Regions from separate parts of the Homo sapiens genome. Here regions 1, 2, 3 and 4 are each linked to region 5. The links come from fine-mapping of genetic effects on gene expression. A gene starts in region 5. Each other region holds a variant in brackets. All regions are shown on one strand. Distances are between the middles of the regions. Region 1 overlaps ATXN10 (ataxin 10). Region 2 has its middle 92 kb from the start of MIR4762. Region 3 overlaps ATXN10 (ataxin 10). Region 4 overlaps ATXN10 (ataxin 10). Region 5 holds the start of ATXN10 (ataxin 10).

The links. PIP is the estimated chance that this variant, and not a neighbour inherited with it, causes the effect. A credible set is the group of variants that fine-mapping cannot tell apart.
Region 1: its variant is the best candidate, but not a certain one, in a credible set for the expression of ATXN10 in esophagus muscle (GTEx, PIP 0.84).
Region 2: its variant is the best candidate, but not a certain one, in a credible set for the expression of ATXN10 in sun-exposed skin (GTEx, PIP 0.70).
Region 3: its variant is the best candidate, but not a certain one, in a credible set for the expression of ATXN10 in transverse colon (GTEx, PIP 0.56).
Region 4: its variant is the best candidate, but not a certain one, in a credible set for the expression of ATXN10 in testis (GTEx, PIP 0.82).

The regions. Positions count from the first base shown.
Region 1 is chr22:45,732,743-45,737,849 of GRCh38, forward strand. The region is part of intron 7 of ATXN10 (ataxin 10); the gene reads left to right. Among named protein-coding and RNA genes, the nearest start is that of MIR4762, 25 kb to the right of the region's middle. The variant G/A (reference allele first, on the strand shown) is at 2,616.
Region 2 is chr22:45,849,651-45,854,757 of GRCh38, forward strand. No RefSeq gene overlaps it. Among named protein-coding and RNA genes, the nearest start is that of MIR4762, 92 kb to the left of the region's middle. The variant A/C (reference allele first, on the strand shown) is at 2,604.
Region 3 is chr22:45,740,546-45,745,652 of GRCh38, forward strand. The region is part of intron 9 of ATXN10 (ataxin 10); the gene reads left to right. Among named protein-coding and RNA genes, the nearest start is that of MIR4762, 17 kb to the right of the region's middle. The variant TC/T (reference allele first, on the strand shown) is at 2,288.
Region 4 is chr22:45,777,096-45,782,202 of GRCh38, forward strand. All of the region lies in intron 9 of ATXN10 (ataxin 10), which reads left to right. Among named protein-coding and RNA genes, the nearest start is that of MIR4762, 19 kb to the left of the region's middle. RefSeq lists a silencer at 541-600. The variant A/C (reference allele first, on the strand shown) is at 2,555.
Region 5 is chr22:45,669,300-45,674,406 of GRCh38, forward strand. It overlaps ATXN10 (ataxin 10), which reads left to right and starts at 2,535. Exons shown (of 12, transcript NM_013236.4): 1 at 2,535-2,880. The coding sequence starts at 2,765. RefSeq lists silencers at 2,208-2,397, 2,458-2,507, 2,838-3,167.

The DNA.
Region 1 (5,107 bases), 63 kb after region 5:
GAAGTAGTTGTGCCATGGAAACCAGCAAATGCTACAAATCAGGGTTTTCCACCTGCCTCTTCCACCCCAGCCATTCTTCTGCCAAACCACTGCATTTACTCATTGGTGATCTTTTTAGGACAAGATAGATATTCAGTAAAGTTCTCAATGCTATGACTGAAAAGTGAGAATGGAAACAGTTGTATTTATAGCATGTGTTTTTTAATTTATGTAATTGTTTGGCTTTAAAATCCCAAGGTTTTCTTCATACGTTTCTTTATAAAAATAGTTTTGGGTTCTCATGTTAATGTACTTATTCCTGTCTTTTGATATATTTTGTATACTTGTTTCCAGTTTTTGATATATTTTTGTCAGTTCAGAATCTTGTTCACTTGTAGCAAGCCTTGCCTTTTCTCTGAAAGCTCAAAAAACATTCCTTTTAGCTTTGTATTTTCTGATATCCATATATTACAATAATTGTTGCCAGGTTGTGGGATTTGCATTCTGTTTTAATCTTTGCAACCCCAGGTTAGGCCATACTGTAGTACCTGTTATGCAGTAGGTATTACATATTTAATTACATAATACATATTTAATACATATTCTACAATAAATAGTGTATTTTTTCCACATATTAAGGGCTTAAATTTTTGTATTACGCAAATAATGCTTGCTTTGTTGTTAAAAATTATTTAAGCTGAAGTCAGTGAAACATAAAGTTACAAAGTTTCAGCCAGGCGTGGTGGCTCATACCTGTAATCCCAGCACTTTAGGAGGTCGAGGTGGGCAGATTGCCTGAGGTCAGGAGTTTGAGACCAGCCTGACTAACATGGTGAGACCCCCGTCTCTACTAAAAATACAAAAATTAGCCGGGTGTGGTGGCGGATGCCTGTAATCCCAGCTACTCGGGAGGCTGTCCCAGCTACTCGGGAGGCGGAGGCAGAGAATCACGTGAACCCGGGAGGCGGAGGTTGCTGTGAACTGAGATTGTGCCATTGCACTTCAGCCTGGGCGACAGAGCAAGACTCCCATCTTAAAAAAAAAAAAAAGTTACAAAGTTTTCCCCTTTTTGCCCAGCCTCCATTTGTTTTCTATAGATCTGCATATCCTTTTTTTTTTGTTTTCTTTTCAAAGGTCTTTTTTTGTATATACACACCTATATGTTTTTTGTTTTCATTTTTTGCACTATTCTTCAACTTGCTGTTTTTACTTATGATGTAACTTGTACATCTTTGCACTTTAGCATGTGTATATTCATTGTATGTTTTTAATAGTTGAATAATATTTAACTATATAGACTCATCATAATTTTTTCATTTGTTCCCTATAGACTTTCCAGCTGCTTTCAGGTTGCTTTTTTTTTCTTTTAACCTTTACAAATAATGTTATAGTGAACATCCTTGTACAAATTTCGGTTAAGTAAATCAAATCCAGGTTATAAATTCCTGGAGTTGAATTGCTGGGTTGAAGAATTATGTGTATTTAAAAACTTTAGAGAGATTTCTAAGTTGCACATCAGTGCAACACAAGATTGCACGAGTTGCCTTTTGCAGATCTGATTTAATTACTATTTCTCGTTAATGTTTTTCAGTGACCATTATGTTTGTTTTTGCATATTAGGTTACTCTTTAAAATGCATTTATTAAAAAGCATTTTCTGGAAATTAGTCTTTCTGTCATACATACAGTAAACTATTGTTTACGTAATTTTTGTTTGAATTTATTTCTGATGTTCTGTTAGCCTTGTAGTCGTTTTTTGTTTGTGTTTAATCTAGTTGAGGTTATCAATTTTATCCTTCTGGCCTCTGGATTTTTTTTTTTTTTTTTGACAACTGACAGCCAAGAAGATTTTTGTTTGTTTGTTTGTTTTTTAAGTAAATTCTCCACTTAGATTGTGGAAATACAAACCTACATAGTCTAGTTCTTTCAGTACTTAGTTCTCATTTTTTATTTATCTAGAATTTATTTTTGAGTAAGGAGTGAGTTATGGATCCAAATGAATTATTTATGTCTTTTGACTATCCAAGATTATAAAATCTTTTGGTGTGAGACTGACTGGGTTTGAATCTTGATTTCTTCTGTTACAGGCATATGATCTTGGAAAAGTTACTTAGCCTCTCTCTGCCCTTCTTTTTCTTGAAATGGGTTATATTATTATTATTATTATTATTATTATTATTTTGAGATAGAGTCTTGCTCTGTTGCCCAGGCTGGAATGCAGAGGTGTGGTCTTGGCTCACTGCAACCTCCGTCTCCCAGGTTCAAGCGATTCTCCTGCCTCAGCCTCCTGTGTAGCTGCAGGCACCCACCACCATGTCCGGCTAATTTTTGTATTTTTAGTAGAGATGGGGTTTCGCCTTGTTGGCCAGGCTGGTCTTGAACTCCCGACTTTGGGTGATCCACCCGCCTCGGGCTCCCAAAGTGCTAGGATTATAGGCATGGGCCACCGTGCCCGGCCAGGTTGTATTTTAATATAAACATTTAATATACAGATTGGTACATAGTTAATGTTCCCTAAATGTTATCTGTTATTATTTCAGTACCATTTAGTGAATAATCTTATCCTTTCCACTAATTTTTTTTTTTTAATTGAGACAGGGTCTCGCCCTGTTCCCCAGGCTGGAGCGTAGTGGTGCA[G/A]TCGTAGCTTGCTATATTCTCCAACTCCTGGGCTTGAGGATCCTCCCACCTACCTATATCATATCCTAAATTCTTTTATTTATTTGGATCAATTACTGGTTCCCTCCAAACAAATTGGAGGGAACCAGTAAGATGTTAACAACTGGAGAAGGGAGAATTCAGAGAGGTATGTGTTTATATGCCATAAAGGAACACTGAAATGAACACACAAAAAAATGCAGAAACTGATCTATCAACAAAGTAGTTGCAGTCCAGGCAGATATAACTAATTTGCATTTTAATGGACAGGAATAATTCTGTATTAATATAAGTTTTCTGTAACTTACAAAGCTGTAAAATTGCTCAAAGATACGAAATGACAGTGTTAACTGAGACAGGTGAGCTAGACAGGAGACTAATCTTTTTTTTTTTGCTCACTTCAAAATCTTTCACGATGTTCCCTTCATTTGCTTGTCTTTTTTTTTTTTTTTTTTTTTTTGCCCTAGTGCCTGATTTAATTAATATTAGTTTCATAAGACTTTTAAATATCTGGAAGGGCATTTTACTCATTAATCTTATTTTTTAAGACAGTAATTTTTCCTGGCTGTTCTTTCGTTACTAATTTCCAGATGCTCATTAGAAACACTTTCTTAATAAAATGATTTTAATGAGTAAAATTGTGAATGTGTTAGGTGGGGATAGATTAATTTTCTTTTAGGTTTATTTTAGTTAATATCATAGAATTTAAGAGCTGGAAGGAGACTTCCAGTTCATCTCTTCCAACCTCTAATTTTATTTCTGTCATTTTAACGTGGAAAATTTCAAACATAGACTAAGAAGAAAGTGTACTTATACTCCATATGCCATCCCCTGGCTTCAGCAGCTTCCCCTTCATCACCATTCTTCTTTCCTCCACAGTTCCACTCATTCTTATGCCAGTTGCCGTGGACTGAATCAAAGCTCCAACATATTTCATCAGTTACTCTAAAAGATAAGGAGTTTTCAGACACAAGTATAATATGAAGAAAACATCTAAAATAACTAATAATAACATTTATTATCAAATAAATAGTATTCAGATTTCCCCCATTGTCTAATAATCTTTTTCAAGTTTATTTTGTTGAAACACCTTACAGATAAGGGCCACCTTATCTGTAACACCTTACAGATAAGGGCAAGTGATTGACATAACTTTACTCCAGTGTATAGGTTCCCCTTTCCTCTTCTTTTTTTCCTCTTTGCTACTTATTTGTTGGAGAAACTGGGTTGTTTTTCCTGTAGACTTTTCTAGATTTTAGATTTTGATGAGTATGTCTTCAGGGTGGCACTTAACATATTCTTCTTTACCTTGCATTTCCTGTGAATGAAAATTCGTTCCAGAGGCATATTCAGATTTGGGTTAGTTTTTTTTGTTTATTTTTTGCAGTAGTGTTTCGCTGTTGATGATACTACTTTCGTCAAGAAGCACATGAGGCTTGGTTGTCTCTGTGATATTAGCAGTCATTAATGATCACCTAGATCCATGAATTCTTTAGGGGTTGCAAAATGGTGGCATTTTAACATTATTGTTCATTTTTTGTTTATTAGCAGGAATATTTTTTAAAGAGAAACTTTCCCTAACCAATTCTTAGGTTCTGTGAGGTACACTGGATGAAGAAAGGCAGGATAAGTGCTCGATTGTTTTCCCTCTTGATTACCAATCTTCAGAATAATGAGTTGGTTTTGTGGCATCATTCAAAGATGACCAGTGAGTTGGTTTGTTTTGTTTTATTTTCATTATGAAGCCATAGCTGTAAAACCGCTTGATTTGTTTTCAGTCCGTTACCGTTGTAATTCTTTCTGATGTTTAATGTGCCACTGCTGGCCGGTGGGAGCCTCATCAAGTTGTTTCTGATTCCGAATTTCTGACATGACCCTAGTAGCCTGTAATAGCGTCTTTGTTGTCTGCTATGACAAGATGTCCAGGGTTACCTTTTGCATGGGCTGTCCCAGGTCTGTTCTTGAAGGAGCAGTGGTATCTCACGATAACAATCTGGGCAGCTACACCTTTAACAAAAGAGGTTGATGAAGCTTTGTGAAATTGATGGAGTTGGTCAAGACTCGTTTTAACATGGTACTACTAATCTAGACTTCTAATCTAGATTTTCCCACTTAACTCTTTAGCAAAAGAAGGCTATGATATAAAATTAAAGATCCAAGACATTAAAAATATGAGTTGTTTTTTGCTATTTATTTTGAGATTTCAGAATACTATATTAATGTATTACCTTTAAATCTCTTAATTAGAAAACAGTAAATACACATTTAGAACTAACAAGGAAGTAATTTGTCTTTCTTTTGAAGAATGTTATCTCTTTTTTTTTTTTTTTTTTTTTTGTTTGAGGCAGAGTCTTGCTCTGTTGCCCAGGCTACAGTCCAGTGGCGTGATCTTGGCTCACTGCAACCTCTGCCTCCTAGGTTGAAACGATTCTACTGCCTCAGCCTCCCTAGTAGCTGGGATTACAGGCACCCAC
Region 2 (5,107 bases), 180 kb after region 5:
CTTGCTCTCAACATTAGAGCATGAGGCTCCTCAGTATGCTAGAGACCCCTCAAAAAAATTGTAATGGCTTTATCACAAAAATGTACCATAATGGACTTGAGCATTCCCTTCTTTTTTAAATATATTTATGTATTGGTGGGGAGGGGGTCTTGCTCTATCACACAGGCTGAAATTCAATGCCACAACCATGGTTCCCTGCAGCCTTGAACTCCTGGGCTCAATTGATCCTCCCACTTCAGCCTCCTGAGTAGCTGGGTCTACAGGTGTGAGCCAGTGCACCCGGCTACCATTCCCTTCTTGTTAGACATTTTATTTTCTGCTTCTTATCATTAGAAATGCTGCAGTCAACATCTTAGGGCTTAAAGCCTTATCTTTGTTTTAGGTTGCATACTGTGGGAGGTCAAGGAAGGAAGATAAGGGGTTAGAGAAGATTTGTCTCAGAGAAGTAATCATATTAGAAAAGAAAAGGCACTTCCCAACTAGGTAGTTCTGACCAAACCCCTCTGAAGGCAACTGAAACACAGGTCAGAATAGTTTCAGCTACTGTTTAAAGGTACCTGGGAGCTAGCAAGACACAGCAAGGAATTACAGGGCCAGGGTCTGGGAGTGAAAAGAGGCCCAGGAAGATAAGTGTATTTGGGTTGCTGTTTCCTCTGAAAGTATTTTTCACTTCAGAGGAGGAGGCAGAGTGGCTAAGAGGCCAAAGAGTGCTTATGAGAGTCCTGGGAGCCAAGGTGGTGGGATGCTGTCCCGGTGAACCTCCATTGCTACAGGCAGGGGACCCAGTGGGCTGAATCAGAAGAGTCGCAGTGAACCGGAAGTAGTTCCTCCCAGAGACCACACTCAGTTTCCAACCATTTGCACCCCAGAAACTGAACTAAAGTTCCCCTTGTGTGCTATGACGTGTGATGTCAGTGATGCACTACATCCTGGAGTGCTGCTCACTCAGGCGTCTAGCAACAGAAATCTCAGGAAAACGGCTCTACCCTTGGTCTTGCATTATTTGTATAGTTTTTCATACGTTGTCTCAATCAAAAATAGGAGGTGACGAGACAACACGATATGAAAGTCAAAAGAAGCGATAACAAATAGAAACAAACTTAGAGGGGCTCCTGATAGTGGAGTCTTCAGGCAGGAATTTCAAATAACTTTATTCGATGTGTTTAAAGAGACAAAGGACAATATTGGAAACGTCAGCAAAAGAAGGGACACACTGTGACAGGGGGACCAAATGAAAATTCTTGAACTGGAAAAATATAACTAAAATTAAGAAATCAATGGATGAGTTTAGCCACAAAAAAGATAAATAGCAAATGGAAGGAAAATAGCTCAGTCGAAAACATCCAGAAGGGATCGCTGAGAGACCAAATGATGAAAAATATAGATGATAGAGTAAAAGACATATAGGATACAGTGAAAGGTTAAGTTCTGATATCCCTATTTAGGGTCTAAGAAGAGAGGAAAAAATGGGTGCTTTAGTTTTTAGTAATAATACCCAAAAGTCACCACCAAACCTTGGGGTTTGAATATTACCAAGAAAGCAGAGTATTGAGAGAAAATTCACACGAGCATCACTTAGCCTAGAGAGGTGATTCTTTTCGTTCCTTCAATAAGCCAAGCAGTAATTGTGAGCAAGCAGAAGACAGGGCCACCATTTCCCGAGGTTGGTCAGTCTTTTCTCTCTCTCTTTTTGCCTTAGTCTCACTTGCACGTTTCTTGCCCCAGCCAGCGTGTCTAGTGACCACCACTTAGAAACTTCTCATCCCAGTCTGCATAAGGGGCTGGAGTCAATATGTGGTTGGCACGTAGTGCTCTCAGCCAGCTCGTTGCACTCTAAAGAGACTCAGGTGGTCAGCACTCACTCAATCCTCCACGTGCTCTGACAGGCTGGGCTTTGACTGGGTATCTGGGCACTTAGTGTGCTTCTTTTCCTATAAGCTCACAATTGCATTGTTCTGACTGGTTACGCCCACACTAACCTCCTCCGTTACATCATGGGTTAAGGGAGTTATTTACAGCTTACGAGTATAGCAGGGATTTATGTCTTTGGGTAAAGTAACTATGTTTTATCTCAACACACACAACTTCTCACAAACAACATATGCTTATCCCAACAGGGCACACATTTACGATTTTGGCAGGTTTTTGAGTAGTAACATGATTTTCACCTCTTCTAAAAAAATTCTGTAGTGCATTTGAAGGGAAACACGATTACAAGCAAAAGGACATTTTGGTGGGTGTTATGGGCTGAATTGTGTACCCCCAAAATTCATATAATAAAGTCCTAACCTCAGAATGTGACCATATTTGGAGCCAAGGTTTTTAAAGAACTAAGTTAAAATAAAGTCATTAGGGTGGACCCTAATCCAGTATAACTGCTGTTCTTTTACAAAAAGAGGAAGTTTGGACACAGATACAGAGGGAAGACCACGAGAAGACACAGGGAGAAGACAATAATCTATAAGCCGGGGAGTGAGGCCTCAGAAGAGAGAATAAATTTCTGTTGTTTAAGCTGCTCAGTGTGTGGTACTTTGTATGGCAGCCCTGGCAAACTAATAAATGGTAGGAACCTTGTTTGCCAGTTTGTTTGAAACACAGCAAAT[A/C]TACCTAATGTCCTTTGTAATGGAGGATAAGGCACGCGCCACAAAGATTTGTTTCGCACATCACAATGGGGCAGAAGCACTTTTGGAGAGATGCTAGCTAAGAATCTTCCAAGACTGAGACAGACATCAAGCCACAGATTCAAGAATCCTAGTGAACCCCAAGAAGGATAAATCATAGAAAACAACACATTGTAAAACCACTGAAAATTTGTCACTGAGTGACAAATATTTAATCTGTAAAGCAGCTTGGAAAATGGGGGCAGCAACTTCTGAGATGACTCCTATGATTCTACCTGATGCCTTCTGTGATCGTCTCCTCTTGAGCATGGGCTGGACCTACTAAATTGCCTCTAATAGAATATGGTAAGAGTAATGGATGTCACTTGCATGATTAGATTTTTAAAAACTGGAACTTCCATCTTATTGGCACTCTTGCCCTCTCACTTGCTCACTCTAATGAAGTGAACTGCCATGTTGTGAGATGCTCACGTGGCAAGGAATTGAGGGAGGCCTCCAGCCACCATCTTATAAGGAACAGCCACCTGAGTGGTCCAGGAGGCCAGACCCTGCCCAGCCAGCCCTTCAGATGACCACATCCTTATGCAAGACCCAGAGCTGGAGAAACCAGCTAAGCTGCATCTGTTTTCTTGCTTCACGGGAACTGACAGATGTTCTTATTGTAGGCCCTTGAGTTTTGGGATAATTTGTTATACAGCAGTAGTTAATTTACACAAGAAATAACACAGATTACCTTCAGAGGAGTAAATATTGGACTGACAGCTGACTTACCAACAGAAATATGTAAGCCAGAAGGAAATAGAATGCTATCTTTGAAGGGTTGAAAGTAAATAATTGCCAACCTAGAATTCTATATCCCTGCCCTGCCCCCTCGCAAAAAGAAAAATGAAAAGGGAATAAAGATACTTTAGATAAACTCTAGTGAATCATTGCCAGCAGACTTTCACTAACAGAAATACTAACGGGTATTCTTGAGACAGGAAAAAAATGTCAGGGAAGATGTAGTTTCGGAAAAGAATAGAGAGCAAGATAAGGGTGATTATATCAGTATGGAGCATAGCCTTAAAGTATATTAAGCAAAAGCTGACAGAACTAAGAGGAAAAGTAGAGAAATCCACAATCACAGTGGAAATTTTTAATAAATTTCTCCTAGTACTAGAATAAGCAGACAAAAATAATATCTAAGGATATTAAGTATTTGAACAATGCAGTTAGGGTTAGCCTTAGTAGACATATTGAACCCTGAACCCAATAACTTTGAAAGCATGGAAAAGCCAACCTCATGCATTAACATAAATCCAAAGACCCTAAACATGATATTAACAAACTATATATTTTAGGGATGTAAGATTGGTACAACATTTTTTAAAAGCTGGGCACAGTGGTACATGCCTATAGTATCAGCTACTCCGGAGGCTATGGTGGGAGGATCACTTGAGCCCAGGAGTAAAAGACCAGCCTGGGCAAAATAGTGAGATCATGTCTTTAAAAATTAAATTTAAAAATTAAAAGAAAGGCCGGGCGCGGTGGCTCACGCCTGTAATCCCAGCACTTTGGGAGGCTGAGGCGGGTGGATCATGAGGTCAGGAGATCGAGACCATCCTGGCTAACAAGGTGAAACCCCGTCTCTACTAAAAATACAAAAAATTAGCCGGGCGCGGTGGCGGGCGCCTGTAGTCCCAGCTACTCGGGAGGCTGAGGCAGGAGAATGGCGTGAACCCGGGAAGCGGAGCTTGCAGTGAGCCGAGATTGTGCCACTGCAGTCCGCAGTCCGGCCTGGGCGACAGAGCGAGAGTCCGTCTCAAAAAAAAAAAAAAAAAAAAATGTTAAGTCAATTAGAAAACCACCATATTAATAAAATCATTATCAACTAGTACAGGGAAAAAAGTATAATAAAATTCAGCATTCAATTGTGATAGTAAAAATAAACAGCAAATTTGGAGTAGAAGAGAACTTTCTTATTCTGAAGAATACCTACAAAAACCCCTATAGCAAACATTGGACTGGTTGAAGAAATGTTGAAGATTTTCTTTTTGCTATTAAGAACAAGGCAAAAGTCAATCACAATTCACTGCTTACATTTATCCTTATGTTGGAAAGGTGAAATAGCCCATGAAATACAGGGGGGAAAAGGGAGGTGGAGGGGTAATCAAGGGGAAAGAACTAAGACAGTAGGATTGTTTATATAGCTAATGCAAAAAAAAGTCTGCATAAGTTGTTAGAATGAATAAATGAATACAGCAAGGTTGCTGGATACAAGTTTAATATACAAAGGTTCATTGAATTTCTACATACTAGCAACAGAGAGTTGGGAAATAAATTTTTTAAATAAATTCTAAAGTGTATAACGAAATGCAATGACAACAAAACCAAGAATAGCCAAGATATTCTGAATGAAGAACCAAGTGGAGAAGTTGCTCTAGTAAATATCAAAACTATTAAAAGCAAGCTTAGTAAAAGAATATTGTTACTAGCACCCAGGTAGA
Region 3 (5,107 bases), 71 kb after region 5:
GATTTCTTAGTATGTATTATACATGTATGGCTTCATTTAGAATATAGTCCTTGGAAGACATTCACTCTTTTGGAGTGAAAGCTTGAGGTGCTTAGAAAGTAGCTTGGATAGAGAGATATATATTTTATATGAATACACACACACACACACACACACACACACACACACACACACATATATATACACACACACACGTGTGTGTGTGTGTGTATATATATATATGTATATGTTAATATATAGGCTCTTTGGAGCCTAGACAAATTTCTAACACACAGTAGATATTTAATAAACACTAGTTATTATTGCCTATTATCTTAAAAAACAAAGCTTAGATCTATATCCTATGTTTATGGACGATAGCATCATAAGCCTTTTCTTCTAGATGTTTTAAAATGGATATAAAAGGAATATAATATTTAAGTATGAAGTCTTTGAGGACCTAGTAGGCTGCTTTTAGAAACCTCTTATGTGCAGAAGAGCTTAAAGGTAGTTATATTGAGAATGTGAGAGAATGGTAAGAAAGATCTCAGGGCAGTTGGACCACATGCTTCAGATTGATCTCGCCTTTCTGTATTTTTCTGGAGTTTTACTTCGGGTGGCATTTGATTTGCTTAGTTAAATATTAATTAAATTTCTGCCAGATTATATTTTTCTAAGATGGTGGCAGAATGTCTTGCATTGTACATGTGTGTCTGCAGTATGACTTTGCCACTCCCCTGTCGAGGGTTGGCATCTATTTCTCCATCCACTTGAATCTGGGCAGGCCCTGTGGCTGCTGTGAGCAATCAAATATGTGATCCTATACCATTTGTAGCATAGCCCTTAACTGGTCTAGCTGATTCTATTTCTGGCTTCTTAGAAGCCCGTCACTATGTAAGAAGTATAGATTCCCAGAGATCACCTTGCTGCGAGTTGCTGAATACACATGGAAAAGCCCTGGAAGATAAGATACAATGAGGAGAGAGGAAAGGTCTGGTGAAGGAACATCAAGGCATGAGATGTGTGCGAGAAACCATCTTGGGAGTAGATCCATCCTCAGTTTCTTACTTGCCCAGCTGATGCCACATAGATCAGGGCCCCCCTACTGGGCATAGTCCTTCCTGAATTTATGACCCATAGTATTATGAGAAAAAGTAAAAAATAGAAAAAAAAAATAAGGGATATAGGTCCTGCTTCAGTTAGTAGCCCAGTCAGTTACTGTTGGACTGATCCTTCTTCAAATAGCAATTATAAACTTTGGACAAAAAATAGCCATGTGAAGACACTCGAATTTGACACAAACGGGCAGATTCTGGAGTGAAATTGATGCTTGGAAGAAGGGAATGACACAGTGTGTGGCATGCAGGGCAGTGAAAAGTCAGTTACAAAATCTTCCGTCTTTCTAGCTTGAAGAATCAAAGAACAGTTTGAGGGCAACCATGGCATTGGAAAGTGAGGGGGGAATTGTGGAAAGTAGAAAACAGACCCCAAACTCTGGGTGTCAGCTACCTAAATCTCTGCTAATGGCTGAATCACACGTGTGGGGCAGGCTCCAGGCAGCTAAGCTAAGGATGAAGTCATTGTATTGAGATTTGAGCTCCCACCCTAGAGTTTATAGTATTAAGTCCAACTTACACTGTAGATAATTAATAATTGCCCTCTAAAAAAAAAAATCAACACTCTTTAGAGGAATATAATATAATCCAGAATTGCCACAGCATAATGTATCCTGTAATGTCCAGGATACAGTTTACAATTGCTTGACGTTCAGGAAAATGTGACCTGTTCTCAATTGAAAAGATGATCAGCGGAGACTGACTGTGAGAGGACACAGATACTGGGCTTAGCAGACAAGGATTTTAAAGTACCAAATGTAACCGTGCTCAAGGATGTAAAGGAGATACGCTTCATAAGAGTGAAAAGGTGGGATATCTCAGCAGAGAAATAGAAACTATAAAAAAGAACCAAATGGAAATCCTAGAACTGAAAAATACAGTATCTAAAATAAAAAAAAAAAAATACCGAATGTGCTTAACCTCAAGAAAGATCACAGAGGAAAGAGCCAGTACACTTTAAGATACATCAGTAGAAATCATCTAGTCTGAAAAACAAAAGCGGGGAGAAAGATTGAAAATAAAACGGCCGCTTTAGGATGCTAAATGTTAGGGTAATTTGTTATGTAGCCGTTGATAGCTGGAATAATTCCTGTGAGACATGGCGCAGAACCAAACGCTAGACAACTTGCACTTTTAGTATATGGGCGCACCATTTTGGCAATCCTCATCTTCAGGAGAGTGAGACTACTGAT[TC/T]CCCCCTTGGGAAATTACTGGACTGATTTTTGCAAAAGAAAGTTGATAGCGAATAAAGCACTTTACCTTTTTAATGACCAGGACTGCCTTTCTTGAGCACAAAAGAGGTGGTTTTTCTTGTGTTTAACTATTCTTTTGTTGCTAATTTGGACTGGCCTCTTATAGGAACAAAATGCAGTAACCCTTAAAAGGCTTGCGAAATAACTCACTGAAGTCAGGATCAGATTGCACCATAAGTAAATATGGAGTGTGCCCAAGTGCTGCTGTGCAGAGGTCACTGGGGCGCACAGGAAGTCGATGGTGTGTCCTGTCACTTGTGCAGTTGCTAATAGCACTGCTGATTTCTCAGCAAACAGTTTAGAGGGTATGAAGGAGTTCATTCTTTGAGTATCAACTCAAATGCCCTCTGTTTCTCTCAGTTTCTTACGTGTGTCAACAAAAGGCCTGAACCTGAAAGCATTACCTCTGGGATTTTTTTCCTCCTTCCAAAGACCGACACAACGCCGAAATCTTGTTCTGGATGTGCTAGAGTGTTCTTTATTCTTGTAGCCAAATCCTTGTTCCAGCTGGGTGTTACAGATATTTGCCTTGCTCATTGTTGCCTCAAGGGATGGAATTCACTCGCACTCAGATGACTTTGGTTATAGTTTTGGGAAAATGGAATGGATGGTTATGTAGCAGGTCTTTATCACGGGACCAGTAATTCTCAGTGTTTTGTCTTGATGGATTGTCTCACTTCTAACCCAGCTAGGGCTTTAAGGGAAATTTGGCTCTGTCTCTGCTCCAAGACTAAAGATCTGAGTTGGGAGGGATTTCGTATCATCTAGCCTAATTTGGGTTCCTCCTTTGCCCAGAAGACAAAAGGGACTGATGATTTATTGTTTAGTGTTTACTATGTCCTTGCATTGTGCTTAGTGAATTACATATATTATCAACTTTAATCTTTGCATCAGCCTTGCAAAGCAGGTTCTGGTAACCACATTTTAAGGAGAGGCCATCCAGTTAGGTGCAGAGCCCAGGGTAGAATTTGGATTTGTTTGCCTATTGAGTTCCCAGGCCTGTGCTCACTTCCTGCCCCATGGTGAGAACTTGCCAAAAGGTTGGAGAAAAGGGTTTAAAATAGACTTCCTGCAGGACTTCAGGCTGGAGGCTGGTCAGTCTGCGTCTCCTAGGCCAGCCAGGCCCCTTAGACTCCCTCCTGGTTGAAGTTGGGAGCTCTTGGGGGTCCTCTTATCCTTGTTTCTGATTCACCCATTCATCAAATACGAATGTTTGCTGGCTTGGGGATCCTTTGACGGGTAATTCAGGCAAGGTATTAATATCTTCTGTGGAGCTTCCATTCTGGCATCATCTGGGGACCATGCTTGCCTCTTTGAATCAGAATCTCAAAACTACTCATGACACAGATTTTCCTAAAATCTTTGTGTACTGCCTGATTCCTCTGAATTTTGAGCAAGACTCTTTCAAGCCCAACTGTGTCTGTGTTGTCTGTGTAACTTCATCCATTGCAGTGAGTATGGTGCCCACCTGCTGGATGGCCCTCTTACACTTGTGTGGCACTTTCCATTTTCCAGAGCTCTTTTCATCTGCTTTAGTTTGTTGGAGCCTTATGATACCTCTGTGGAAAGGGCTGAAAAGATATTTCCACCATCATTTTCTAAATGAAGAAACCAAGGCCCCGAGACCAAGTGTGATTTAACTCAGCTAGCACTTGCTGAGTGAGAATTGCCGTGTGCTGCATGCTCTGGAGAAGACAGTCGCTTTAGTGGTGGAATGACACATGTCCACTAGGAGCTGTAGCAAAAGTCCGTGTGGTGAGGCCTGTCAGAAAGGAACAGGGGGGTGATGTGTCCTCTGGGCTGGCTGTGCCAGGAGCATTTCTCTCTAAGGACAGGCACTGGACTGCCAGGAGCATGGTATCAACTGGAAGGATGGTCATCTTTCTTTGAGATACTTGTCTTTGGGCAAGATTTAAGAGAATCAAGGTACGTTGCCTCAGATTGAAAATCTGCACAGAAATGTATTTTATCCCAAATTCTCATGAGTCTTTAATGCTTAAGTCTGTACACGTGATAGATGTAGTGTTTCCTGAATTGTAAAGGAATTGCTAGACTTCCCTTTACCTCGTCATGGTAGGGAGGTGTCAAATCCTTACTGACTTCTATTCTTACCTTGTTTTTTTGTTCTCGACTTGTGTAGTATTTCCTTGCTACAACTGTAGTGATTAGTTTACTTCTAAACTTTTGTGGACCTAAATGGAGATTCTGTTTTGGTTTCTATTGTAAGAAGCACAAAGATACTAATGCTATAAACATGAAGAAAGCATTCTTCAGCTTCTTCTTTGTTAGAATAAGGAATGTATGGTTTACCTTTTTCTTCCCTATTCTTCTTCTTTTCACTATTGTCATAACCTCTTTAAGTGAATCTTTATTAGAAGAAAAACCAAACGTTTATTTCATAAAGCTAAGTGCATTTTTCAAATCGGACAGACAGATGATCTAGTTTATCTACCTTCCGCCCGCCAAGGAAATTGTATTGACTAGGATGGGCCATATATCCGTTCTGCTAAAGGTTATGGAACTGCTATTCAGTTTCTTCTCCTCCTCCTTCCTCCTCCCTGATTTAAAATATTCCCAGCAGTCACATACTTGATGATCCCATGTCAAATATATGTGCCTATAAATCTTTTACTATAAGCATACCTTAATTTTAAAGTAAGTCTGTACTGTATGAAAAAGTTCAACATGTAAAGACAAACTTTATTTGGCCCCTTCAGTTCTCAATTTTGAAGGCAGGTTCATTTATATACATAAAATAAT
Region 4 (5,107 bases), 110 kb after region 5:
ATTTGGGTTTTCCTGTTCAAACTTTGCCATGTTACTCCTAAGTGATACCTTACTTACTGAGATGGATCAGCCTTAGGGAGAGGTTTGTCATACTTTGTTACACACTGAATAGCCTATAATTATCAAGATTATATCCAGTTAGCATAAAGTGCTGTTTAGTTTCTGTTATGTCGTTGTTACCATAGCTGGAGTCGGGTGGGTGTTTAAACCTTTGTGAACTCAAAATTCTTTAATGATGATGGAATATTTCATGTTTTAGTATTCTCTTGATCTAGAGTATATGTTCAAATGTTTTACCAGGTATGTGTTTTTTACAGGTTCATATAATATATAAAATGCATTTCTGTTCCAAGAAAAATACAAGTGGTAAACAGTTGGGAGAGAGCTTGCATATTTTCCTTTATTGTCCTGTCTGATGATTAATGCATTCAGCTATGTTCAGCCTCACGTTTAACCAGGTTAGTGTTTAGTTTGGTTAGGCTGTTTTCCTTATGAGAACAGAAATGGCCAATCCTGTGCCCTGCCTGTCTTCCAGATGGAGTCTTTGCATTGTTTCCAGATCACAGTGCTTAATGTAAGGTCAGATTTTCTTGTGAAAACAGATTTTGGATTAACTATGTCTGTGCACTTGCACGCACCCCTCCGCACCTGCCTGTTCACTTAAGCTCTAGCTGCCTGCTGGAGTCATGGTTCTGATTTCAAGATGCAAATGAGAATTGAGATTCTGCTTTATAGCCTAAAAATGCAAAAGCAAATTCCTACTGCATGAATGGTCTGCAAGTCTCCCTTTCATAGAGACCATGAGGTGTAGTGGAAAGAGCTTGATTCTTATGAGGATTTAATGTAGGGGTGAGCAGACTATGCTGTGGGCCTCTATTTGTAAATAAAGTTTTATTGGGACATAGTTGTGTTCATTTCTTTAATATTGCCTATGGCCATTCTCACACTACAACAACACAGTTGAGTAGTTGCAGTGGAGACCGTATGGTTTGCAGAGTCTTAACTATTTATTTTCTAGCCCTTTACAGAAAAAGTTTGCTGGCCCCTGACTTAATGCAATAAAAAACTCAGTAGTTTGAATCCCAGCTGTGTTATGCAATAGCTGTATGACATTGATCATGTTCTGTAACCTCTTTGTACCTTAATTTTTCCCCTATTAATGTCATTTATCCATTTACTCAGTGAGTATATATTATGAACTTACTATGTGCCAGGCCCTGCTCCAAGCTCAGGAAATACAGCAGTGAACGAATACTGGCCTTTATGGAGCTTGCGTCTCAGTGAAACTTATCTTCATGAGGATAATTGTACATGCCTCCTAGGGAGGATGAGATGAATTAATATATGATACCTGTAAAGCATAAGTAGAGTACATGCTCAGTGTGTTCGTTATTATGCTAACTATAGGGTTGTTAATGTGTAAAACAAAGTAGAACCTCTGTTCAGAGTTGGAACCCTTATAAGTCCGCGTTTACTATTCTTGAGGTTTTTACTGAAATAACGAATGATTAGAAGTAATTGGGCATATATCTGGTACAATTAGCCTAAAAAAGAGAGAGAGGAGCTTGTATGAAATTAGGATTCTCCATTAAGTGAATAAAATCGTGTCACTGAGTTCCCAGCTAAGAGCAGTCTGAGATTGACAAGATTGTTCTTGGTACACAGGATGGCTCACATGGAAAAGATGAGAATGGGAAAAGTAAACATTTGATTAATATATGAAATTAATACTAGTTTCTTTGTATACATTCAATTTTGATAATTAATTAATTTGATATTTGTACAAAAAGGTCCTAGGATGTGAGCACTCTCCATCTTGGCACTCAGGCATGTCTGGTGAGTGGAATGGATACAGAGTATCAGAGGATCTAGAAGCTCCTGATTATATGAGTTGGGGAAAATAATTTTGCTGTGTTCCTCGTTTGTAAAGTAAGGAGACTGGACTGAGTTTTTCCAGGCTCTTTTCAGCTCTTGAGTATGAGATTTATGAATTTTCTCTGTGACCAGATTCCCCAAAATAAAGCTTTGCATCGTTCTTCTCTCCTGCAAGAAGCCACCACTTCTTCCCTTTCATAATGAAGCAACACCTCTATTTCTTCATGTTTCTAAGTACAGAATGCATAATATTGGAGTAACAGGACCCTACTCATCTCGAGAAATTATCAATTTCTTCAACTTCTTAATGAGGATAATTTTCTTTCTTGGGCCTCGTATGTAAGTGGAAGTATGATTTTTGTTGGACCACATAGTCACTGAAGGCACTTTCCAGTTCTGGCATTCTGAGACTCCAGAATATAATTCAGAAGACTATAATTCAGAAGACTAAAGACGGACTGGAAGGAAGAGGGTTATGTTGGGCTTTTGTTGTTGTTGTTGTTCTTTTAAGGAGAGAAACTTCACAGCTGGGAGCGAGACTAGACTTGCTGTTGGGGTGAGTGGCCGTCTTGCAGTACGCAACCACTGGTAGTGATTTCAGGCCTCAGTAGGCATCTTTGTCATTTTTATGTGGTGTTTATGTAGTATCCTTTTTCCTCTAATGCTCTTCCTTTGGTAC[A/C]TAACCTTGTAGGAAAAGTTTAGATCTGAAAGCACAGATGCTGTGAAAGGACCAATTCTATATTGCCTTGCATGGTTACAGACAAGAAAGCGAAGACTTGAAATCTGTAGTTTGTGGTTTGTGATCTAGCAGAGATGAAATAGAATTCGTACATACTTTTTGAGAGTACAAAGAAAAAGAATCATTCGTACTTTATTTGGAAACATGCCATTCTTCTGGGGCTTTCATTTTTAAAATATTTAGGAATTAATAATGTGTTTCTGAAAAAAAAATCTCTGATTGATAAAGAAGTGGAAAAGTATACTCCAATGATTTTACCAATCAGGAGTCCTTGCCCTTAAACATTTGAAGTTAATGTTTTTAATATCTAAGTATTCTACATTCGTGAAATTCCAAATAAAAACGCTTATACAAACAAAAAGGCAGACTGCATCATCTTTTTTTTTTTTTTTGAGACGGAGTCTCGTTGTGTCACCCAGGCTGGAGTGCAGTGGCACGATCTTGGTTCACTGCAACCTCCACCTCCCAGGTTCAAGCGATTACCCTGCTTCAGCCTCCTGAGTAGCTGGGATTACAGGCGTGTGCCACCACGCCCAGCTAATTTTTGTATTTTTAGTAGAGATAGGGTTTCACCATGGTGGCCAGGCTGGTCTTGAACTCCTGACCTCAAATGATCCACCCGCTTCAGCCTCCCAAATTGCTGGGATTACAGGCATGAGCCACTGTGCCCGTCGGACTGTTTGCTCTCATGAGAGCAGGGTGTGAAAGCCCCCTTGTTGCCTGTTTCAGAATTTATGCAGTGTGGTGGGAGGAGGTCTGGCTCTGGAGTCAGGCAGACCTAGGTTCAACCCTGGCCCTGCTGTGGAGTGGATGTGAACCTGTGCCAGCCTGTTTCCCCCTCTGTAGAATGGGATAACAGGAAGTCCTGCCTCAGAGGCTCATAGGGAGGATTAGGTCAGATACTACATGTAACGTGAACAGTGCTGGCCAATGCTTAGTACATATTAACTGCCTTTATTTTTGTTTGCACAAATATATCCTAATCTTCTGAAATTTAAACCTGGATCAGTGACTTGTGTCTTCATTTGCTAATGGAAGTCCTTTGGCACCTTAAAAACAATACGTTGGCAATTGGACTTGGGATTCTGGATTAAGGTGGTGCAGATGCACTTCCCGGTATCTCTCCAGCTAAATACATCCAGAACCCTGTCATCATATATGAAACAATCATGGAAACACGTGACAGGTGGGGAGAAGACGGCATACTAGCAAGGGGCCTTGAGACTCAGAAACGATAAGGTGGCAAGTTCCCTGGGTTTTCTCAGACTGATTAATGTTAGAGAAGCTGTCAACCCAGAAACACCAATGGGTGCAGACCAGAAAGCCCTGAGGAAAGCTCACTCTTTCTCCCTAAAGGACCAAGAAGGGGACAACTTAAGACAGAAAACTTTTAGACAGTAAGTGCCCTATTTCAGCCAAACACCACGGAAAAGAATGTGGCCCCAGCCCACCAACAATGGCTGAATGGGGAGCCGAAACAGAAACCTTCCCCTGGTTATAATGAGGCACCCCTCACCCCTGCTAGGTGGTGTCAGAGAAGATGGAGCTGGGAGCCAGGTTTTTATCCCCACTGGGCAGTAATGAGGCATCCCCCAACCCCTGCCCAGCTGTACTGTCAGCAGAGACCGAGTAGGGAGCATGAACAACCAGCTCTGCCCAGCAGTAGTGAGGCACCCCTCTCTCCCCGGGTGTCAAAGGAGGTTGAGTGAGGGACCTAGATCTTCACCACAACCTGGCAGTAGTGAGCTGCTCTGCCTTCCACGTGCTGTTGTTGAACGAGCTCTGCTAAAATAGGAGACTTAAACTTAAGATTCAGTCTTCTCATACCACTACACCCAAATGTTTAGAGTACAATTTAAAATCATGGGTTACACTAAGGACCAGGAAAATCTTAGCTTAAGTGAGCAAAGGCAGTCAACAGATGCCAATACCAAGATGATGACATGGATGTTGGAATAATCTGATGAGGATTTCAAAGCATCCATCATAGAAATGCTTCTGTAAGCAATTATGACCACACTGGAAACAAATGAAAAAATCTCAGCAAAGAAATGGAAGATACAAAGAAAAGCCACGTGGAAATTTTAGGACTAAAAAAACAGCAACCTGAAATAAAAAGCCAAAACTCAGTGATTGGGTTCAGTGGCAGAATGGAGATGCTGGAAGAAAAAAATCAGTGAACTGGAGGATGGAATAAAAATTATCCAGTCTGAACAACAGAAAGAAAATAGACTGTACAAAAAAGTTAACCAAGCTTCAGGGATATGTGGGACTTTAATAAAAGGCCGAAAAAGTATTCAAAAGAATAATTTCCTCAATTTGGCAAAAACCATAAACCTACAAATTCAAGAGGGTCAAGAGTGGATCGAGTTTCCTTGGTATAGCTTTTGAATAGCAAGTGACTCAACTCTCTGGAAATTTTCATGATCCTATTAACCCATCATTCCTGTTAAAACAAGAAAGGATCTCTTCTCAGTCTTTTATTCTTCATGA
Region 5 (5,107 bases):
ACATTATTTCTTAAACCAATGAGAATTCATGACAAACAACCTTTTAAATCACCCTCTCTCCTGATTCGTCCTTTTTTCTTTAAAAAGTTGAGCTTCTCTTTCGTTCTCCAGAGCACTCCCCAAGGCAACTTGGATGTGTGTCCTGGACTGCAATGCTCACGTTGGCCCAAATAAACTCTTTATATTGATTTTACCTCAGCTTATTCCTTTTAAATAGACAGAGGACAATAAGGAGGTCAGTATGGCTGAAGCACAATGGAAGAGGAAGAGGCTAGTAGATGTGATTAGAGCCCACAGGGGCTGGAGGTGATGGCGAAGGAGGAGGCAGGTCATTTAGGGGCTTTTCTATTGGAAGAACTTGGCTTTTACTCTGAGTGAAATGGAAATCCCTTAGAGGGTTTTGGGCAGAGTTAAATGTTGAAATATTTTTTAAACGATCTAAAACGTAAGGAAGCAAGAGCAGAGGCCAAAAGACCAATCAGGAATATATTACAATATTCCAGGCAAGAAGTATGAATATTATAGGGAATGTTTTTCTGGGAATGTTACATTTGAGAATAAGAAAACTAAAGGCCAGGTTTTTTTGTTTGTTTGTTTGAGACAGAGTCTCCCTCTGTTGCCCAGGCTGGAATGCAGTGGTATGATCTCAGCTCAGTGCAACGTGTGCCTTCCAGGTTCAAGCAATTCCCTTGTCTCAGCCTCCCAAATGGCTGGGACTACAGGCACCCGCCACCATGCCTGGCTAATTTTTAGTAGAAAGGGGGTTTTGCCATGTTGGCCAGACTGATCTTGAACTCCTGACCTCAAGTGATCTGCCCGCCTCGGCCTCCCAAAGTGCTGGGATTACAGGCATGAGCCACCGTGTCTGGCCTAAAGATCAGGATTTTGGTGCATAACAAGTACATTTTACTATCCTGTGCTCCTCAAGGGAAAATTAAGAGATTTTTGCCCTGTTAGCTTAAGGAGTGTTAAACATTTTGCATTGTCTTGAGCACTGCTACTAATAAGTGATCTAATACCTGGCACATAGTACACCGCAATATTCGTGGAATGAATAAATACATACTCAATTAAATGGGTAAACTGAATGACAATATCAAGTAACTTGCTTGTGCAGCAGCATTCATTTCCCTCCCTCCTTTTTTTTTTTTTTTTTTTTTTTTTTTGATACAGGGTATCATTCTGCCACCCAGGCTGGAGTGCAGTGGTGTGATCACAGCTCACTGCAGCCTCGACCTCCTGGGCTCAAGTAATCCTCCTGCCTTGGCCACCCAAAGTGCTGGGATTACAGGCATGAGCCACCATGCCCCACCAGGATTCACTTTTTCTGCATACTCTGGTGGTGTTTATTGTTATCTTTACATTTTATTTAGCAAAGAATGTTAAAAGCGCCATGTTATAAGCACACTCCTACCCTCCAAGCAGAATGTAAAGGGTATGTATTTATATATTTTAAGTGGTCCCACAGCAATTTGTACAGTTATAGCAGTTCACAACTATACTCAGTTATGTTTGCTTCTCTCCTTCTCAATAGTCTGTGAGGTTCCTTCAGGTTTGGAACTGTCTTTTATTAATCTTTACATCTCCAGCACCTAGCGCAGGGCTTAGCAACAATTTTTGTTGAAAGTATATACACTGTAATAAAGGGCAGTGGAAAGAAAATATGTGAGTTATCAACACCAGCTAGAGAAGCCTTGTCTGATTCCTGTGAAATATATTCATTTCCCTTAGGAAAAAAAACAATTCTAACCCTATTGCTGTGTAACTTAGCTTCTTGACTTCGAACGGTATTTTAAGGCTTTGAGGAGCTGGAGCAATGTATACTCACTAGAGGCAAAGTGCCTGGTAAGTGGTCTGGTATTGATCAGCAATGATCAGTAAGTACTGGGAAGTGCGTTTTCAGGGCCTGAGACTTGCAAGCTAGTGACAGACCGCTCCAGCTTCCAGTGGACCCGGGCGGGGGCACTGATCAACCCACTTGAGCAGTGGGATCAAGGTCTTCAGCCTTAGCAGTGGGAGCCTCTGCCCGGCCCCCTTCGTTCCCGAGACCCTCAGTCAGCGTCTCCTCCCAAGAGGGTCCCCTCCACCCAGAATGTCCTCCCCTGGGGGAGACCACTCTGTCTGCGGGCCCCCTCCCACAGGAGGGCCCCTCTTCCTCAAGGTGAACCTCTGTCCCCGATACCCGCTCCCAAGACCGAGACCTTGTTACGGCCCCACCCTCCACAGGCCCCTTACCCCCCGGATCCCCTCCCCTGGGGGAGACCCCTCTGTCCGCGGGCACCCTCCTATAGGACGCGCCCCTCTTTCTCAGGGTGAACCTCTGGTTCCCGATACCCGCTCCCAAGACCGAGACCCTGTTACGGCCACATCAACACAGGTCCCCCTCCCCCCGGCGTCCCCTCCCCTCGGAGGAGCCCCGTCTGCGACGCTTCCCAGTCAATCACCCCCAGCATCCCTCCCCGCTCTCACCCAGAACTTCCGCCGCGCCCCCTCCCCTCAGGCGGGACTTCCGCCGGCGCCCCCTCCCCCGCGGCGCCGTCTCCTCCTCCCGCCTGAGGCGAGTCTGGGCTCAGCCTAGAGCTCTCCGGCGGCGGCGCAGCTTCAGGGCAGCGCGGGCTGCAGCGGCGGCGGCGGTTAGGGCTGTGTAGGGCGAGGCCTCCCCCTTCCTCCTCGCCATCCTACTCCTCCCTCCTCGTCATCCTCCCCCTTCGTCCTCCTCGCCTTCCTCCTCCTCGTCAGGCTCGACCCAGCTGTGAGCGGCAAGATGGCGGCGCCCAGGCCGCCGCCTGCCAGGCTGTCGGGCGTCATGGTGCCGGCGCCCATCCAAGACCTGGAGGCCCTGCGCGCGCTCACGGCGCTCTTCAAAGAGCAGCGGAACCGGTAACGGGTCCGGCCGGGGGGCTGCCCCGGGCAGGGGAGGGCGGCCGGGACTCCCGCGGCGGCCCCGGCCTGGACCCAGGCGCCGCCCCCGCCTCGCTGGAGACGCGGAGGGCGAGGCCTGCGCGGGCTGCCTGAGCGCCACCCAGGCCTCCCGACTCCCAGGCACCGCCTCGTGCTCGTGGGTCCCCGCGGGGCCTGGGGCGGGCGCCCCGCTCCCCCACCGCAGCCAGTCCGGGTGCGAAGCCGCGATCCCGGGAGCCCTTGCCGCGGCGTGCCGGTGATGTTGACCCAACACACGGTTAGGCCTCCCCTGTCATGTGCGAGGGCTGCGCCAGGCCCTGGCTGCAAGACCCACGCGGCCCCCAGAGTCATAAAGCGTGTGTTTTAGCGGGAGAGACCCGTGTTACGGACGCGGGAATTGGGCAGTTGCGGGGATGGCAGTCTCTAGGCATGGAGTGGGACTGGCACTCCTTTCTCCTCGGCGTTAGAGCCCAGGCTGCACCATCTGCCCTGGGGGCAGCGCTCTGTGCAGTGTGGAAGAGCACGGGCCTGGAGAGACCAGTCCAGTCCTGATGCCACTGAGGGGCAAGATAGCCAGGCAAAAAGAGAAGGTGCCCAGGAGTCGACAGTTGTGGATTTGGTTCCTGGCCTTGCAAGCTGCGTGTTACTGTGCAGTTTCTCCAGGCCTTAGAATTCTTGTCTAAAAATGGGACTATAATACACAGCTTAGTTGCTGGATTGTACAGAGGAATAAATGAAATAAAGTACGTGAAAATATAAAATGTGCGAAGCCCTCAGTCAATGCTTGTTTGATCTTGTTCTGTCCTCTGGGCCTCAGTTTTCTTGTCTATTTAATGGGAGTAAAGTTGAACAGTACCTCCCTGGTGATAGTGTCATAAGGAGTAAATGAGATATAATGCATATTAAATCCTTAGGACATACCTGTACATAGCACTAAATGTAGCTGATATTATCACTTAACACATTGATTGGTAGTTACCCATGTATCAGCTATTGTGCTAGGTGATGGGGTAGGAAAATGGAAAGTCCTTGCTCTCTCCTGTACTAGTATGTACAAGATAACACAGCTGTGGGGGTATGTATGTACAAAGCAGAGGGAACATTGAAGAAAGAAATACTGAGACTTGGGTCAGCCTAGGTGATCACTAGAGGACTTCCTCTCTTTAAACTAGACACCTGGTCTGAGCACTTCCTTTACCTCACATCACTTTGGGAAATGTGGAGCTGCTGAAGGAATGCTATTAATAAAAGTCCCTGGTACTGCTCTATGGGCCTTTGGGGGAGATGTATTTATTGATTTAATGCTTAGGCATTTCTGTATCATGATGGACCCTCCTTTTAGTTAATAACCCAGTCATCAACCATTTATTGAGCACCTACTATGAAACAGATTTTTTTGTTGGGGTCTGAGGGTACAGAGAGGAATGATGTGAGTGATCCCTTTTATCAGGCATATTTGGGAAATAGCTAAATAAACACATTGTAATGGAAATCTATACAAGAGGTGGTGGCACAGGGGAGCATGTGGATATGTTGGAAGATTGGCGAGCCAGGAGAGGCTTTTTAAGGTTATTTCAGGTGCTCGGTTATAGATGAGAGGACTAGAGGGAACAGTGTCTGCAAAGGGGCCATATGTTAATTTTGCAAAACCGATGAGACAATTAAGTAACATAGATAAGGTTTCTCGTACAGAAGAGACATTTAGTCAGACATCAGTTCCCTTTTTATAACTTGGAGAAAATCCAAGCCCCTGAGCCAGTTTAGAAGGCCCTTCTTGACTCTATCTCTTGTGAGGGAAGAAGTTACAGAGAACCATTGATGGTTTTTGTCAAGGGAGTGGCGCGATAAGATCTGCCTGTTAGATCTTCCTGGCCGCCTCCGCCTCCATTGTGGGGAATAAATGAGAGGACGAAGCTAGAGACAGGGGGGACCTTTAAGGAGTGGTAGCGGAAGCCCATGTGAAAGAGAAAAGTGCCTAAATTAGGACATTGTGGGGATGAGTAGAATAAATACTGAGAGATACAAGGTTGAATGGACAGGACTCGGACCAGTTGGATTGTGGGGGGGAGAATGAGGAAATGAGGATGCTTCCCAGATTTCATCTGAGTTCTGGGACAGTGTCCTTGTTCCAGGCAGAGATTGGAGACCAGGAAAGGTGAACTGATGTGCAGGTCCTGGCATGGAAAGACACAGTTGTGTGGTGGTG